4 linked regions of the Homo sapiens genome follow. The protein of the gene in region 1 interacts with the protein of each later gene in a biochemical or structural test. Each region holds a gene or a part of one and is shown on either strand. Other genes may lie near its edges.

What was found.
Region 2: of the proteins of ABL2 (region 1) and PDGFRB, one has a biochemical effect on the other in vitro, tested with the Homo sapiens proteins (one study listed by BioGRID).
Region 3: the proteins of ABL2 (region 1) and KIT form a complex in vitro, tested with the Homo sapiens proteins (one large-scale study listed by BioGRID and IntAct).
Region 4: the proteins of ABL2 (region 1) and MET form a complex in vitro, tested with the Homo sapiens proteins (one large-scale study listed by BioGRID and IntAct).

The regions. Positions count from the first base shown.
Region 1 is NC_000001.11:179,114,255-179,118,536, reverse strand, and holds part of ABL2 (tyrosine-protein kinase ABL2), read left to right. Parts: intron 1-1,020; coding exon 1,021-1,205; intron 1,206-3,506; coding exon 3,507-3,659; intron 3,660-4,282. UniProt on the Homo sapiens protein: Non-receptor tyrosine-protein kinase that plays an ABL1-overlapping role in key processes linked to cell growth and survival such as cytoskeleton remodeling in response to extracellular stimuli, cell motility and adhesion and receptor endocytosis.
Region 2 is NC_000005.10:150,120,757-150,125,038, reverse strand, and holds part of PDGFRB (platelet-derived growth factor receptor beta isoform 1 precursor), read left to right. Parts: intron 1-207; coding exon 208-312; intron 313-678; coding exon 679-789; intron 790-1,837; coding exon 1,838-1,997; intron 1,998-2,998; coding exon 2,999-3,159; intron 3,160-3,716; coding exon 3,717-3,835; intron 3,836-4,028; coding exon 4,029-4,151; intron 4,152-4,282. UniProt on the Homo sapiens protein: Tyrosine-protein kinase that acts as a cell-surface receptor for homodimeric PDGFB and PDGFD and for heterodimers formed by PDGFA and PDGFB, and plays an essential role in the regulation of embryonic development, cell proliferation, survival, differentiation, chemotaxis and migration.
Region 3 is NC_000004.12:54,660,667-54,664,948, forward strand, and holds part of KIT (mast/stem cell growth factor receptor Kit isoform 1 precursor), read left to right. Parts: intron 1-4,282. UniProt on the Homo sapiens protein: Tyrosine-protein kinase that acts as a cell-surface receptor for the cytokine KITLG/SCF and plays an essential role in the regulation of cell survival and proliferation, hematopoiesis, stem cell maintenance, gametogenesis, mast cell development, migration and function, and in melanogenesis.
Region 4 is NC_000007.14:116,674,597-116,678,878, forward strand, and holds part of MET (hepatocyte growth factor receptor isoform b preproprotein), read left to right. Parts: intron 1-4,282. UniProt on the Homo sapiens protein: Receptor tyrosine kinase that transduces signals from the extracellular matrix into the cytoplasm by binding to hepatocyte growth factor/HGF ligand. Regulates many physiological processes including proliferation, scattering, morphogenesis and survival.

The sequences.
Region 1 (4,282 bases):
CAGATAAAAGGAAGAATGTGAGAACCTTCCCAGAAAATTTCAGATGATTCAAGAAAGTAATTTTGTATTTCACAGGGCCCATTATAATGTCACTTCTAACTTGTAAACCTACTGTACTCTGATTAAAGTATTAATAAGGGGCCTTTGCTATTCTCAAACCTGAGAACTCTCTTAAAAAAAAATTGCAATAGTGATGGGGTCTTGCTATGTTGACCAGGCTGGTCTCAAACTACTGGCCTCAAGTGATCTTCCCATCTTAGCCTTCCAAAGTGCTGGGATTATAGGTGTGAGCCACCATGCCTGGCCAGAGAGCTCTCTTTATTTTGCCAGCACTGTATCCAAGATCCTTTTTCACCATCTAGTGGCTTTTTTTTTTTTTCCTTCTTGAGACAGGCTGGCTCCATCGCCCAGGCTGGAATGCAGTGATGCGATCTTAGCTTACTGCACCCTCAGCCTCCTGGGCTCAAGCCATCCTCCCACCTCAGCCTCCTGAGTAGCTGGGATTACGGGAATATGCCACCATGCCCGGCTAAGTGTTTTTTTATGGTTTTTTTTTGTTTGTTTTGTTTTTTGTTTTTTTTTTGTAGACTGGGTTTCGCCATGTTGCCCCGGCTGGTCCTGAACTCTTGAGCTCAGGAGATACACCCACCTTGGCCTCCCAAAGTGCTAGGATTACAGGCGTGAGCCACCACACCTGGCCTAGTGGCTGAATTTTTAAAATAGTTTTCTGCATTAGTAAATAACTTAGTCTTGTAGAAAAGCATCTATTGCTCACCTATCCCAGTGTACTTATAAATAGGGACCCATTTTATAAAGCCTGCTTTATTCCGCATCTTGATGAGTGCTCTACAGTGACATATCATTAGTGGCTTTCTAAGGTGTTAGTGATTATCAGAAGATACTACCATATTTGTCAGCACTTACTTAACTCTGCCTATAACACAAAACCAAGAATAGAGTGTTCATGACCATTTTCCTCACCATCTGAATGGAATCACATTAGGGTTCTCTTTCCCACAGAGATCTTGCAGCTCGTAACTGCCTAGTGGGAGAAAACCATGTGGTAAAAGTGGCTGACTTTGGCTTAAGTAGATTGATGACTGGAGACACTTATACTGCTCATGCTGGAGCCAAATTTCCTATTAAGTGGACAGCACCAGAGAGTCTTGCCTACAATACCTTCTCAATTAAATCTGACGTCTGGGGTAAGGTTGAAAGGGACTTTTTTCTGTGTCATTTTATTTTTTTTTTTATAAATGCCTTGATTCTTTAGAGCTTCTCTTACGATGTTCAGTATCCTCTACCTTTACCTGCCATTCTTCTTCAGTTATTCAGCAAGCATTTGTTAAATACCTCCTATCTGCCAGGACTGTGTTAAGAACTTTGCATAAACAGAAGTATAGGCCTGGTGTGGTGGCTCACGTTTGTAATTACAGCACTTTGGGCCGAGATGGGTGGATCACTTGAGGTCAAGAGTTCGAGACCAGCCTGGCCAACATGGTGAACTCCCATCTCTACTAACTACAAAAATTAGCCAGGCGTGGTGGCATGCGCCAGTAATCCCAGCTATTCAAGAGGCTGAAGGCTGAGGCAGGGGAGTTGCTTGAGCCTGGAGGGCAGAGGTTGCAGTGAGCCAAGATGGCGCCACTGCACTCCAGCCTGGGCAATAGAGCGAGACTCTGTCTAAAAAGAAAAAAAAAAAAAAAAGTATAAAGAAGAAAGTTTAGGGCCAGGCACAGTGGCTCATGCCTGTAATCCCAGCACTTTGGGAGGCCGAGGCAGGTGGACAACCTGAGGTCAGGAGTTTGAGACCAGCCTGACCAACATGGAAAAACCCTGTGTCTACTAAAAATACAAAATTAGCTGGGTGTGGTGATGCATGCCTGTAATCCCAGCTACTTGGGAGGCTGAGGTAGGAGAATCACTTGAACCCGGGAGGTGGAGGTTGCGGTGAGCTGAGATCACACCATTGTACTCCAGCCTGGGCAACAAGAACAAAACTCTGTCTCAAACAAAAAAAAAAAAGAAAGAAGAAAGTTTTAAAAAAGAAGTCCCTGCCTTCAGAGAGCTCACAGTCTAGATCTCTTATTGCATTGGAGTGCTAATGATCCTCCCTCTGTAAAGCATCCTATTTCCACATTAGGTTTTTTGTTTTTATTTTTGAGACAGAGCCTTGCTCTGTTGTCCAGGCTGGAGTGCAGTGGCACAATCTCAGCTCACTGCAACCTCCCATCTCCCGGGTTCAAGCGATTCTCCTGCCTCAGCCTCCAGAGTTGCTGGGACTACAGGCATGCATCACCATGCCCGGCTAATTTTTGTCATAGTAGTAGAGATGAGGTTTTGCCATGTTGGCCAGGCTGGTCTCGAACTCCTGACCTCAAATGATCCACCTGCCTTGGCCTCCCAAAGTGTTGGGATTACAGGCATGAGCCACTGTGCTCAGCCTCACATTAGGTTTTATCACTCATTTGCAGAGTACTGTGACACAGAGCTTTTTTTTTTTTCGAGGGAAGTGTGATGAGGTTTCCTCTAGAATTTGTCCTAATTGATCTGGTTTCTACTGCTCTGAGAGGTAATATGATTTGGTTGAAGCTTAGTAGACTGAACAATCTGGAAATTTGGATTGTGGACCAATAGAAATAGTCATAGGATTCTAAGTCATTTTTTACTGGAAATCTCAAACTCAAATAACTGAGACAAAATCAAACAAATTTTTTTCTGCTCTGAATTTTATCTGATTTTAAATGAATCCATTTTTATTTTACTCCTCTTGTATTAGCTGACTTTAAAACTGTTATGCTTCTTAGATACAGTGGTTCTCCTTTATCCTCAGGAGAATACATTCTAAGACCCCCCCCTTGGATGCCTGAAACCAAGGATAGTGTCAAGCCCTGGATATATAATCTTTTTTTGATCTGATAACCGAGAGGTCTTCTCAGTGACTAAGGGGTGGGTAGCATCTACGGTGTGGATATGTTGAGTAAAAGGATGATTTATGTGCGAGGCGGGAAGGAGAAGCATGGCTTGAGAGTTCATCATGCAACTCAAGGCAGCATGCAATTTAAAACTTTAGAATTGTTTATTTCTGGAATTTTCTATTTAATATTTTTGGACCTTGGTTGACTGTGAGTAGCTGAAACTGTGGGAAGTGAAACCATGGATAAGGGGTGACTACTGTATATCAAAAACTTTTCTAAGAATAGTTGGATTATGCCTCAGACTTCTTAAATGGTCATAGTTTATTTTCCCTCATTACAGTAAAGGAAATCTAAATAAAAATTGGGAAATTTAAATAAAACTGTCTTGAGATTATCTGCAGCATTCCTGTTGCAAATATTTTAGAAGGACAAATCATGCTGTAAGAATTGATAAAAGAGTATATTATATATTAATGTTGTTGTAACAGTGTGTGAATGTTACCTAAAATATGAAAGAGAATCACCTAATTATGTAAAATAAATAATCGGAGAAGAAACACTAAGTGCTTTTTTTAATTCCTTATGCAGCTTTTGGGGTATTGTTGTGGGAAATTGCTACCTATGGAATGTCACCATATCCAGGTATTGACCTGTCTCAGGTCTATGACCTACTAGAAAAAGGATATCGAATGGAACAGCCTGAGGGATGCCCCCCTAAGGTTTATGAACTTATGAGAGCATGTGAGTATTTTTGCATGTTTTAATTTTGAAGGCATAAGCTAGCAGTTCAGAATAGTTAACAAAATTAGAAACATTTCTCCTCTCAGTGTTGTTAGATTGAATCCAGCCTCATGACATTTAAAGAGTTTATCATTGATCAGCCAGTTGTCATATCATATACCATTGAATCTTATTGGAATCCTAAGCATAGTTGTTATGGCCCAAATATTGACCCAGTTTCTCAGAGACATTTGCATATTTAATAAGATAAGAAATTGAGTTTAGAGATTAAGGTGGGGAGGGCCGTTTTCAACTAGATAAAAATGATTGCTAAAGACTATGAAGAATGCATAAAAATAACCTCTGTGTAGATAAACAGAAGCATCCGATTGCTTGCAGATGAAAAAGTAGGAAAGTGAATAGTGGATTAAATTGCAGGGTTTTGTTTGTTTGTTTATTTGTGTTGTTGTTTTTCAAACACTCTTGCTTTGTTGCCCAGGCTGGAGTGCAGTGACGTGATTTCGGCTCAGTGACGTGATTTCGGCTCACTGAAACCTCTACCTCATGGGTTCAAGTGATTCTCATGCCTCAGCCCCTCAGTAGCTGGAACCACAGGCACGCACACCATGCCCAGCTAATTTTTT
Region 2 (4,282 bases), on another chromosome or scaffold:
TGTGGTTGCAGGAGTGTGTTTAGGGAATATCCTGAGTCCAAGGTGGTTTAAGTAATGTCTAGGTTGACCTAAGAGAGTGGCTCTTTCCCCTCACTGGGCAGGAAGGGTGATAGCGGCCGGGGGTAGGGGAGTGGGGGGAGGGGGGCAGCTGGGGGAGCGGTGCAGCTTCCTGGTAGGCCAGGAGCTAATGGATCATCTCTGCACCAGGACGCACCCTCGGCTCTGGGGCCTTTGGGCAGGTGGTGGAGGCCACGGCTCATGGCCTGAGCCATTCTCAGGCCACGATGAAAGTGGCCGTCAAGATGCTTAAATGTGAGTAGTCCTTGGAGCCCTCCACATCTGGGCCTTCACCTCTCCCTGCCCCTCCCCACACACTTAGCCTCTCCCAGGGTGGCCTGATGCTGATTTGCAGGCACTAGAGGGGCCATCACACTGCAGCAGGCACTGCTCCCGAGTCTGGGTCTGGTTTGGGAAAGAGCGTTCCTCTCCCTGGCCTCCTCGGCCTGCTTCCCCCTACCCTGGCCTCTTCCCCTCCTCAGAGTGTGGGTGCTCACCCCCGCCAGGCTGCCTGGGTCTTGCAGCACAGGGCGGGGCAGAAGAGTCAGAATAGGCTCCTGTGGTGGGGCCTCCATGGAGCCTCCATGACTGGGCCTGGCCTGGGGCCCCCATTTTCCTCAGCCACAGCCCGCAGCAGTGAGAAGCAAGCCCTTATGTCGGAGCTGAAGATCATGAGTCACCTTGGGCCCCACCTGAACGTGGTCAACCTGTTGGGGGCCTGCACCAAAGGAGGTACCGAGCCCACTGCCCCAGAGGCCTCAGGGAAAGTGCCCACCACCAAGGCCAGGCCCCGCCTACCCCCCCCTCAGGCCTTGCACAACAGCACACTCCTGCTGGAGGGTCCGTGCCCACCCGCTCCAGCGCCCTCACTGCGCGGTCCCAGAGGGCGGTGGGGTTTAGAAACTCACAAAATCACAACACCTTCAAGGCTGAAGGATTAGTCAGGTCACCAGTCCCAGCAGCTTCCAGACCATGGTGTTGGCTGACACTTTTTTATTTTCCCAATACATTTTGAAAACCAATAAATAACAGCTCACATGACATTAAGATGAGTTATATGCCCACCATTGGAGACCACCAGCTTGCTACTTGGGAGCTACCTTCATTTGATCATAGAAGAAAGTCTCTGTGGCCAACTGGGTCTATTTGAAGCTCTGATTGCCAGTTAGGCTGAAAAAAAATGTTATCACCATTTGCAGCTGCTTATTGTGAGATTTGGGATTTTCCTCAGCATTATGCAACCAAAATAAAATACAGAAGTATGTTGGGTACATAGACTTATTCACGTTTGCAATGATCGCTCATTTCAACATTTTCGTTTGTGTAGATATCTTCAAGTTCTCACTGATTGACTTTAAGTAAATGCATTGTAGTTGAATTTAACTACTAAAGTGATCGTTGTAAACAGTGGCCTTTATCTGCTTTCTATACTGGGCTCCAAAGTAAGCTTTAGTTTGAAAACATATCAATAAGAGCCAACACTGCGAGCTCGCCACGTGCCCAGCCAATAAAGACATCATCTCATTAATCCTCATGACAGTGCTTTGTGGTGGGTTTAATTAGCCCCACTTAACAGCTGGGGAAGGTAAGGCTCAGGGAGACTAAGTACCTTGCTCTCCACCACAGAGGCAGGAAAAGAATCCAGATTTGCAAGGCACTAAAGCCTCCTAGCCGTCATGCCAAAGTGTCTCTCCCACATCCAGCCCCTGATTAGCCTCATGGCCTTGAAGGGACGCCTGAGGCCTCCATAGGGACTGTCCCTGAGCCTGTCCCTCTGCAGGACCCATCTATATCATCACTGAGTACTGCCGCTACGGAGACCTGGTGGACTACCTGCACCGCAACAAACACACCTTCCTGCAGCACCACTCCGACAAGCGCCGCCCGCCCAGCGCGGAGCTCTACAGCAATGCTCTGCCCGTTGGGCTCCCCCTGCCCAGGTACCAGGAGGGAGGCCAGGGACTGAATCTTTGGGATACCTGAGGAGCACCGCTCCTTCCCCTCCTTTTGTCCAGGAGGGGAAGCTGAGGCTGTGACAGGGCAGGGGACAGAATCACTCCTGGAGCTAGGGCTGTTCCACAAGATGGTCCACCCCAGATGAGGGAATAACACTAATGCCAGGCCCTGTGCTGCTAAGCCCTCTACAGATGTGACATGCCATCCCTGTGTCGTGGGTGTTTGCCCTTCAGTCCAGGGCAGGCAGTGATGGAGGAAGGGGCAGAGGCTGTGGTGAGATGAGAGCCAAGCCTCCCAATTTGCACAGTGGTGCTCCAGGCTGTGTTCCTCTCTGCAGCCTCTACACATCAGCCTCCACACTGCCTCTCAGGGAGCTCAACTCCAGTCTTTGTCTTTTCCAAAAAGAACACTTCTTAGTTCTGTTGCTGATTACAAAAACAAAGACAAGAGTAGCTTCAGAAAAGCGTAAAAGACCTTAAAACCCACTCATGTCCTCTCCAATGTTTTGACATTCAGTCTCCCAGGAGCCAAAGGGCTTCTCCCATCTTTTTCCTGCCTATAGAGACAGATGTGTGTAGAGCCCCACAGCTCTTTGGGGAGCTGATGCTACAGGCATAGGTAGCGGGGTGAATCCTGGCTGCCTATGCTGGGTTGCAGTCAGGCACTCCCATGGCCAGGTGGCGCTGGGGAGGCCACAGGAAGGCGCCTCTGAACACACCCGTCTTGTGACCTTTGCCCTGGGGTGCTGTAATCGCCTCTGGGTGTGAGCTCTCTGGGTTCTAACTGTCATTTTGGTAGCCTCAGTGCCCAGCTTGGCCCAGCAGGTTGGTTGAAAAGTCTTGATCCACAGGCTTTCCTACTGGGATAGACTGAAGGAAGATGAGTGAGTGTGTGAGTGAGAGAAGAAATTCATGAGTGGCAAGGGGCAGGAGGGGAGGGGAAGGCAAAGCCTGCAGGCTCTCCTGTGATGCTCCTTTACCCCCAGCCATGTGTCCTTGACCGGGGAGAGCGACGGTGGCTACATGGACATGAGCAAGGACGAGTCGGTGGACTATGTGCCCATGCTGGACATGAAAGGAGACGTCAAATATGCAGACATCGAGTCCTCCAACTACATGGCCCCTTACGATAACTACGTTCCCTCTGGTGGGTGGACATAGTGACATAGTACCCCACATCCAAACAGGCTGATGCTCTTCACATGCCCAGCCTTGCCAAAAACCCTGAGAAGAAGGGAGCCTCGTGCCCATTTCATAGATGTAGAAATTGAGGCTAGCCACCTGGCCAAAACTGATCTGTAGTGGACCCCTAAACGGAAGCCCTGTTTATGGATCCGGAAACATGCGTAGAACCCTCAGGGAGGGAGAGAGCAGGGATATGGGAGGACCTGGCCTTTTGTCGTGGTAGGGAAAGTGATCTACTCAGCTTCAGCCCCAGGCTGGTCTAGTGTCCCTGAGAGGCAGGCAGGCAGGCCAGGCTGGGCAAAAGTGGCCCAAGGGCTAATGCCAAAAGGCCAATGAGGGCACTGATAAAGCAGGAGAACTTTGAGTTTGATATTAAGAAATCATTCTCCTTTTAGGGGAGACCTAGACGATCAGTAGCCACCTGTCTTGGACATTCAGTCTCCCAGGAGCCAAAGGGCAGGGGTCCTGTGGGCCAGAAGGAGATATAAGATAGCAGGTGACCCTCTGCTTCTCCTCTAGCCCCTGAGAGGACCTGCCGAGCAACTTTGATCAACGAGTCTCCAGTGCTAAGCTACATGGACCTCGTGGGCTTCAGCTACCAGGTGGCCAATGGCATGGAGTTTCTGGCCTCCAAGAACGTACGTGTGGTGTTGGTGGGGCAGAGTGGGGGCTGTGGGGAGGTGGGTCACCCAGCCAGCCAGCATCCTCCAAGAGCACACCAGGGTGGCCTCTCGCACATGGGCAGTGTTGTATTTTCCCAAAGCCCTTGACATGAAGGGTCTTTCCCCACAATTGTCCCCAAGGCCTCAGCTCCCCTCTCCCCAAACCCAGTGCGTCCACAGAGACCTGGCGGCTAGGAACGTGCTCATCTGTGAAGGCAAGCTGGTCAAGATCTGTGACTTTGGCCTGGCTCGAGACATCATGCGGGACTCGAATTACATCTCCAAAGGCAGCGTGAGTACCTTCCCTGGCCCCTGCAGGGCAGTCACAGTGCCTGTGACCGCAGGAACAGATTCCCTCCTGACCAGTGTGGCTGCAGCTCATAGGAAATCTGTGTGGGGCTCCTTGTGGCCTGCCCTGACAGC
Region 3 (4,282 bases), on another chromosome or scaffold:
TCAATGAGCCTAGGAAGTAGTACTATTATTACCCCTAACATTTTACAGCTGGAGAAACTGGCTAAGGATAAGCCCTAAATCATCAGTGGTGAAGCCTGATGAGATTGGCTGCATGTGCCCAGCTCTATAGCCATTCACATGATTCACCAGAATCTGTTGTAAGACTCATTCAAAAATATTTAATGAGTTTTTACTATGTGCCAGGGATTGTTGGAAGTTCTGGGAATACAGGATGGCCAATGTCACTACCTTCCCAATTTTGGTGAAAAATATTTAGAATTGCGTGTCTTATGAAAGCGGATTATTTGTGGAGGGAGGATTAATTAAATTTTAGCTTGGAGGAAGGGCTGTAGGCATTTGACCCTGTGGTATGTTGGCTTAGTTGTTAGCTATCTCATTCCAGTTAGCGTCCCTCAGAAATGAAGGTAAGCTGTTTCTAAAAGGATGATGCAAGCCAGTTAAAAATCCATCTCCCACTCCAAAACATAAAAATGGTCTTGTGCATAGGTGTGAAAGAGAACACCCCCAATAATGGCTGATGTCATTGGCTATTTACCCTGGATAGCATGGTGAGAAATAATGACAATCTACCATCCAAAGCCATTTTTTCTCCCAAAAGAAATTCTCATCAGAAATGTGCCAAGTATTCTGCGGGCTTCCCTTGGAGAACATTTATGTACAGATGTTGTGGTGGTGATGAATTTTGCTGCTGTTGTTGACAGCCCTTCGAAGTTACCCTTAGGGTTTTGACTCATTTCCTCAAGTCTCTTCCAGCTGATTAAAGAAGGACACGAGGAAATGAACCTCGGTGTCTCTAGCGGAATTCTCAGAGCTGGCCTGCAGTGTGGGGACCCCTTCAAGGTAGTGGTCAAGGCTGTGGCAGCTTTTTCTTCAGAATGAATGTAGTTTAAGAGTTGGCAGGCTAGGATGTGGGAAATGCTTTCTTTTGCTGCATTAATGTGCGGTAACTTTTAAAAGTTGAGATTGAATGACATTTGCAGGAATCCAAATATGCAAATTTCATGTGCAGTTTTGGTAACTTGAATAGATATTGCCACAGCTATAAGTCCGGATTGAAGAAGGCCTGGGGAAGAGTTAGAGGAGGTAAAAGTTTGCCTGGAGGGCAAATCCAGTGTAAATCTTTGTTGTACTTAGAGAGGAATTGAGTTGAGTCATAGAGAGGAATTGAGTTGAGTCGGCTTGGCCCAGCAGCTCTGATTTCTGACATTTTTTGGATGTGATCATACAGCTCATCTTTTGACCTAAGACTCTTAATAAGTAAAGAGCAGTTGTAATCTGATAGCCCGAGGAGACATGTTTTCTTTGGCCTACATGATGCTTTTTAGAAAACATTGAGGCGATATTAAACAATCTAGAGATTTTTTTTAAATCAAGATCTCTATTTCTGTCTCCTCTTTAAGAATTGAAGGTCATGGCCCCTGTAGATGAGGCCTGTGCTCTTCAGGTTGCATTAGGCTCTAGGGCTTTATCCTGCCATCCCTTAGGCATTCCCCACTGGGCCCTGGTGAGTGCAGGAATCCAAATATGCCCCTGGGACCAGGCAGATGACAAGTGGGAGGAGACAGGCCGGCCTACCTTGTGTTGGTCTGATGGCTTCATGACTGACAGCTTGATGGCCTTAGAGCAAATTGTTTAACCTTTTTGAGCTTTCATTGTCCATCCTAGTTTTGCCACTTATTAGCTCTGTGACTTTCGGCAGATTACTTAACCTCTCTGTGCCAGTAAATGTGTTGCTACATGTAAAACTTTTAGAGTGGTGCCTCATAGTACAGGCTCAATATGTGTTAGCCATAATTATCGTCTGTAAAACAGGAATTATTATTGTCCCTAAAATGGGAATAATGCCTACTCTTTTAAGATGATTGCCCTAAAGATTAGAAAGGCATTTTTTTTGTTTGTTTTAAAGACAGTATCTTGCCCTGTTGCCCAGGCTGGAGTGCAATGGCGCAATCTCGTCTCACTGCAACCTCCACCTCCTGGGTTCAAGCGATTCTCCTGCCTCAGCCTCCTGAGTAGCTGGGATTACAGGCACCCGCCACCATGCTCGGCTAATTTTTGTACTTTTAGTAGAGATGGGGTTTCACCATGTTGGCCTGGCTGGTCTCGAACCCCTGACCTCAGGTGATCTACCTGCCTCGGCCTCCCAAAGTGCTAGGATTACAGGCATGAGCCACCATGCCTGGCCGACAGTTTTAAAAATAAGCTTTAATTTTTTTGGTCTTGTTTTATTTAGCTTTTGATAAGAGTTAGGAAATCACTAGTCCTAGAGATTGAATAGATCTTGAACTTTTTTTTTCTCCAGGGGGGAAAAAAAAAAACTACACATCTTGTAAGATTCTCCAACATAACATTTGTGTCTGGTACTTTTCCCATTCATCTTATGTTTTAGCTTTCATGCTTACATTTTGGTTATGACACACTTTTGTTAGACATCTTCCCATGCATACCTTTCTGACAGGTTTTCAACATTTTTGCAAAATTTAAGGTTTAAGCCAAATTATTATTCAGGACATGTGGCATCAGTTAATTACGAGCTTGGGCTCTGAAATTGACACGCTGGATTTTTATTCCAGTTCTGCCTCTTCCCTGCTGTGTGCTCTGGGACAAGACACTTAACCTCTCCTTAAGCTTCATTTCCTCATCTGTAAAATGGAGATGATGACATAGGGCCCCTGCGAGGATTAAATGAGATTCTGCATGTAATATGCTTAGCATAGTGCCCCGCATAGAGGAAGTGTGTGGACTCCACTATCAGGCTGATTTTCTTATGTTCCCCTTTCAGCTTTGCCTCTTAGAAAAAAATTGAAAACGTGTAAACAGAATATGTAGAGTGGTTTTTTTTTTTCGTATTAAGATGAAGTTGTTAATTAGTGGTAATGCATGTTTATCTGCTTGGCTCTTTGTTTAGCCGTATTCTTGGGTTACTTTCCACCAAAAGAGATACAAATTTCTTGATAAAAGTTTAGGTTGGGGGAATGTCTGCAAATGGCCATTTTCTGTAGGTGAATAAGTACATGTAGTTCACCTAGGGTCCATGAAAGCAGTCAAGGAGCTTTTCCATGACTGCTTTCACTAGGAGTTCAAGGACCAAGCTGAACTTGTCCATTGCCCCAGGCTAGACACAGCGGTTAGTGTTCAGTAAGTATTAGTTTAACATCTTTTCTATTCTCCAGCACTTACACTAAGCTTTGAACATAAATGGTCAGTAAACATTTTGGATTCAGTTTAACAAAGGCTTATCAATCCCCATGCCTTGGTCCTACGTTACAGGCTGGGGGTGGAGGAGGGCCAGGGCAAGAGCACAGCCCCTGATTCGAAGTAGAATTTGGTTTTCTTAAGTGTAAAGTGCTCTGGGCAGGATTTTCAAGGAGATGAGCTTAAATCTTGATGGGCAGGTAATAGAGATCAGGAATCAGTAAGAGCATCCACATAGGAGATAATATTTGAGATTAATTTCTGAACCTTAAAGGAAGAGGGCAGTGTAGTTGTGGCTTCAGCTGAAAAAAACTACAGTACAAGGAACAAGGCATTAGGATCTTACTTCAGGATTATCAAACCTTTCTATTGGTATGATGGCTGGGGGTAGGGAATTGGCTGGGAAGGTAAGACTCCTCTTACTAGCCTCAAGGAGCATGGAGGGAATGTGTATTTAGTGCTGAGTTTGGTCTAGGTTATGAAGAATGCTTTGAAGTCAAGGCTAAGGTGGACTTGACCCAGGAGTGGCCCCCCAGGCTTTGCATACTAGTCCAGGGCTGCCTGTTCCACCATTCTGTCCAATTAGACATACTCCCCAGCCTGTTCCAATAGTCTGACGAAGCGAGAGGCCAAGCCCTGCCTTAAAACTTGGACACTCCCTTGCTGTGGGCAACCAAGACTAAGGGAGAGTCTGTTTTTATTATTTATTTATTTATTTATTTATTTATTTATTTATTTATTTATGAGACAGGGTCTTGCTCTGTTGCCAGGCTGGAGTGCAGTGGCACGATCATAGTTCACCGCAGCCTCCACCTCCTGAACTCAAGTGATCCTCTCATCTCAGCCTCCTGAGTAGCTGGGACCCCAGGCGTGTGCCACCACACCGGCTAATTTTTTTATTTCTATTTTTGTAGAGAATAGTCTCGAACTTATGAGCTCAAGCGATCCCCCAGCCTCAGCCTCCCAAAATGCTGGGGTTACAGATGTAAGCCACCACACCTGGCCTGTTTTTTTTTTTTTTAATAGTAAAACATACATAAAATGAAATTTACTACCTTAATCATCT
Region 4 (4,282 bases), on another chromosome or scaffold:
GTGAATAACTCAGAGGAGCTAACATCCTCTAACTGGCTTATTTTCTCCAAGTGGCTGCACCAAAGACATGGCAACACCCCCATGGTGAGCACAGTTCCTCACACATTCAGATTACCTCCCATTTCTCTGTCCTCTTCCTCCTCAACCCTTTCCCTTGGTTTGGTCAGAGCTGCTTTCAAGGCCTTCCGTGCCCCCATTTCTCCAGCCCAGTTTGCTCGTTTCTTCTTTAGGCATTAGGCTTAGTGATTCTCGCCAGAGCCATCTACGCTTTCTTTTCCGTGGTCTAAATCCCTAAGATTTCCTTGGTCTGCTGTGTTTATTCATAGGATACTCAATTTCCTCATTGTGCCCTCTTAAGGGGAGAAAATGTATGTAGAAACTCAAGTGTCCGGAAGTGAGCCTTCTTTTCCTGGCTGGTGTATGCTGAAACTAGTGTTTTTGACACCAAGCCCTTAGGGCAGAGTTTCTTCATGGGTTTTGCTCAGTGCAAAATAAATAGTCACTTCTCAGTAATAAATGATAGATACACTGACTAATGTTAGTTCAGAATCACTTTGATGATGTGTTCTCAACTGACACTGAGTTGCTGCTAGATCCACATTTGCCTGACCAAAAATAGCTAGGACCTATAGGTAGAGTATCATATGTGCTAGGTACTACAGCATTTTCTTTAAAAGAAAGAAATGGAATCTGCCCTTGAGAAGTTTATGATCTAGATACACAGACAAATATCACATATTAAATGAACACAAATTCATAATTATTAAGAGGACATCACATGAGAAACGCTTTCAAAATCATCCTATTTGCTATGAAATAATAGAATTTTTTTTTAAAAATCAAAGTTTGGAACTTAAAAACCTTAACATTTTCAAGCTGTTTCTGCATACATCACCTTTCTGATACCAAAACGACCTTACAAGATAGGCAAGTCTGATAACATCTTAACATTCTTATGTTATAGACAAGGAAACTGAGCTTGAGACTAGCTCCATGCTATTTCAATAGCACCATACCACCTTTCCTCAGCCATCAACTATTGGAAACATTTTCCATGGAGGCATCATTAGGGATGCTTAAGATAGTGGTAAATGATGAATATAACATATCTAGTCCCTGGAGTTTTTGTCACCTTCTCTTTCTCCAGTTCTCTCTCTCTTTTTTTTTTTTAATTTCTTTTCTTTTCTTTTTTTCTTTTCTTTGTAGTGAGACATACCGAGAAAAGGTTTCATTCATATGTGTGGGGCATTCTGCTCCTGTTATCAGATTAAGAGCCGTGAATAATTTTGTAATCTATCCTTCTATCAGAAAGCCCATTCTCAGATATCTTTTCAGCTGTGTTAAACAGGTTAGTATATTCCGCTTGGGATTTGTTTCAATAAAAACATCCAGTAAAATCTGACTACTTTGCTTTTCATGGGACAAAATGAAAAAAGTGCTTTTATAAGCTGTAAAACTTAATTGAGAGAAAAAATCACGTGTGGCATTTGTAGCAGGAGGTATGAGCTCAGTGAAATAAAAAAGTTAACTTTGTAATCACATACCCAGGTACACATATTTCTCTCTGTGATTGCATAAATGTGTGCAAGTATGTTTATGTAGGTTACTCCCATTGATTTTAATTTCTATAATAAATTATGTAGCTATAGGGCCCACAGGCGATTATATAATGGGCAATAGAATTTGAAAATGTATCTCTCCTAATATAATTAAGGATAGCAATTATGAAATGTGCTTAGAGAATCACAAGTTATCGTGAAAGCCAGGTTCCTGTACTCCAAGAATGTGAATGAGGATTTAGTCATTCATTCAGGACAATTTTTTGACAACCTACGAGGCATAGTTCTAAAATCTGGCATTTCCACAGAGTATAAAACAGATGAAAACCTCTAACCTCATGACACTCTGTTCTATTGAGTTGGCAAACAATAAAGAAATACATAACTGAAATGTGTTGTATGTCAGGTGATGATAATAGCTTCAAGGTAGAATAAAATGGAAAAGAGAATAGTGACTGTCAAGGATAAGAGAGAGTGGGATGGTGATTGAAAAACTCAATAGTGAGGTCAGGGAAGGCTTGTCTTCAAAGGTGGGCTTTGGGCTAGAATCTGAAGGAGATAAGGAAGTGAGCCAGGCGCATATGAGGAGCACTTCTCAGGAGTGCTATTCTCATCTTGTTTTTCCTGAAATTGTGCAGTTCACAGCTTGCACAACTGTCCATAGACTCCCTGATTTTGGAGGGAGATACCTGAATAGTGCCCCTGTTTTTGTAGGGAAATACCTGGACAGTGCCTGCCATCATTAGCTACCATGTTAAAGATGAAGATACAGGAGTGGCCCACATCTCTTGGTTTATGAGACATGGAAGAAGAAGACCCAGAGTGTTGTTTTGTTTTTTTTTTTGTTTTTTTGTTTTGTTTTGTTTTGTTTTGTTTTGCATCCGCCTGGTCCCATCCCATACTCCATCCTCTATCAGAGATATTGCTCCATTCAGACAATTTTCCTTCTTATTTTCCACACTGTGAGCCTGTCACAGTGGGATTTGTTGAGAAGGATACCCATGGCTTTTTTCACTGATCCCTTCCATAGTATAAATCTAAAGACAGCAAGAGGCAGTTGCTGATGGTGTGCAGCTTCTGTCTGCTATGCACTTCTTTCTTTCCCCCTCGCTCTCCTTCCTTTTCCTTTCCAGTATTAAGTCACTGCATTGGATTTTCTTCCTCTTTTCTTCCTTTTCCCTTATTCCCCTATTTATATCCTGTATCAAGATTTGCAAACAGGTAACTTAAATGAGGAAAACTAACCATTTCACTAGGGATTGACAAACTGCTTAGGAAAAGCAGAGGGGCAGTCACTGCTTGGCGTGATTAGAGCTGTTGTGAGGCTCAGTGTATGGCATGGGCCCATGTGGTAGTATCTTTCAGATTTTCAAGAGAAGCTAGGACTCTCCCAATTTTAAAATGTTGACTCAGTGTCTTTAAAACACCATACAGCTTACAGTGGCAGAAAGTCTGCAAGCCAGATTGGGCTCCTGATGGTCCCAATTGCAGCAGCATGCATGGCCCGAGAGCCCCAGGACTGCTTCTACAAAATATTTTATTTTCTAAAATTCTCAGAAAATTAACTAAACAAATTTTTTAAAACCAATATTTTATGTCAGTTCCTATTGGCACGTGGTTATTTTTCTAAACTCATCAGCCCACATACTTTACATCAAACTATGTACGTTTCTAAACTAAAGGGTAATCTAGTTATTTCATTCTTAAACTGAAGTAGTAGTTTTCTGAAACCTGAATCCATCATGGCTTTATGCATCAATTTCATTTCCAAGTTCTCTGATTCAGGATAAACTCCCCCTTTGGAATATTGTCTTTCTCTCTCTCTCTCTCTGTCTCTCTCTCTCTCTGTCTCTGTCTCTGGAAATGACTGAACTTCACCCGTTGTTATTACCCTGCCATTGAAATTCAAAACATGCACTGCCCTCCTGGTTTCCAGTGCCCTTTAAAAGCAATCAGATCAGTGTTAAAATCTATTTTTCCAAAGGAATAAAAGCTCACAGGTTGTGCACTAATTTGTTTCCTTTAATCCTAAAATCTCAGTGAAATGCCCAAGCTAGCAGCCCTCCAGAAGGCCACTGTGTTAGAAAGGGAGATTATGTACTGTATTTCTTCCTACTATTTTAAATGCAAATATAATAATATATCATGAAACAGTGCACATACAGTATACATATTAAGATCAGTGGTCTATTCCTGTTTTGAAATGGTCTCCTACTCCTTAATAGTTGGAATTCTGAGGCAGCACCTAGACTCTCAGGTCCAATTTGAAAATGTATGTTTTTTTTTAAAAAAGAATGACTTGGGGAATAACTGTTTGATAAGACCGTGGAAGATTTCTAATTTTTAATATTTTATTAAAAATGTAAAGAAAGACATTCAAAGCTGAGACCTTTGAAATAATATGGTCTTTGCAAGTCAGAGAAAAAGAGAAGTGGTAAATTTATTAGAGATAGGTTGCCTCCTTTGAGGCCTAATCATGTGGGAAAGGAAAACCCAGCCAAGGTTTGGGTCCATAAGACAATTCAACCTAGCTTTAAAAATAGGTTTTGGCTTTGCTTGGGACCAGCATTGGGACCAGAGTGTATCTAGACCAGCATTTTAGCTATTAAATTTTAAACCTAGGGGTCTTTTAAGGGAAATTTAATCCATGTGTCTTTGATTCACTAAATCTTAAATCATTACTCACAAACTGTATGTCCCTCTAAGCTCTTTGATGTCCAAGA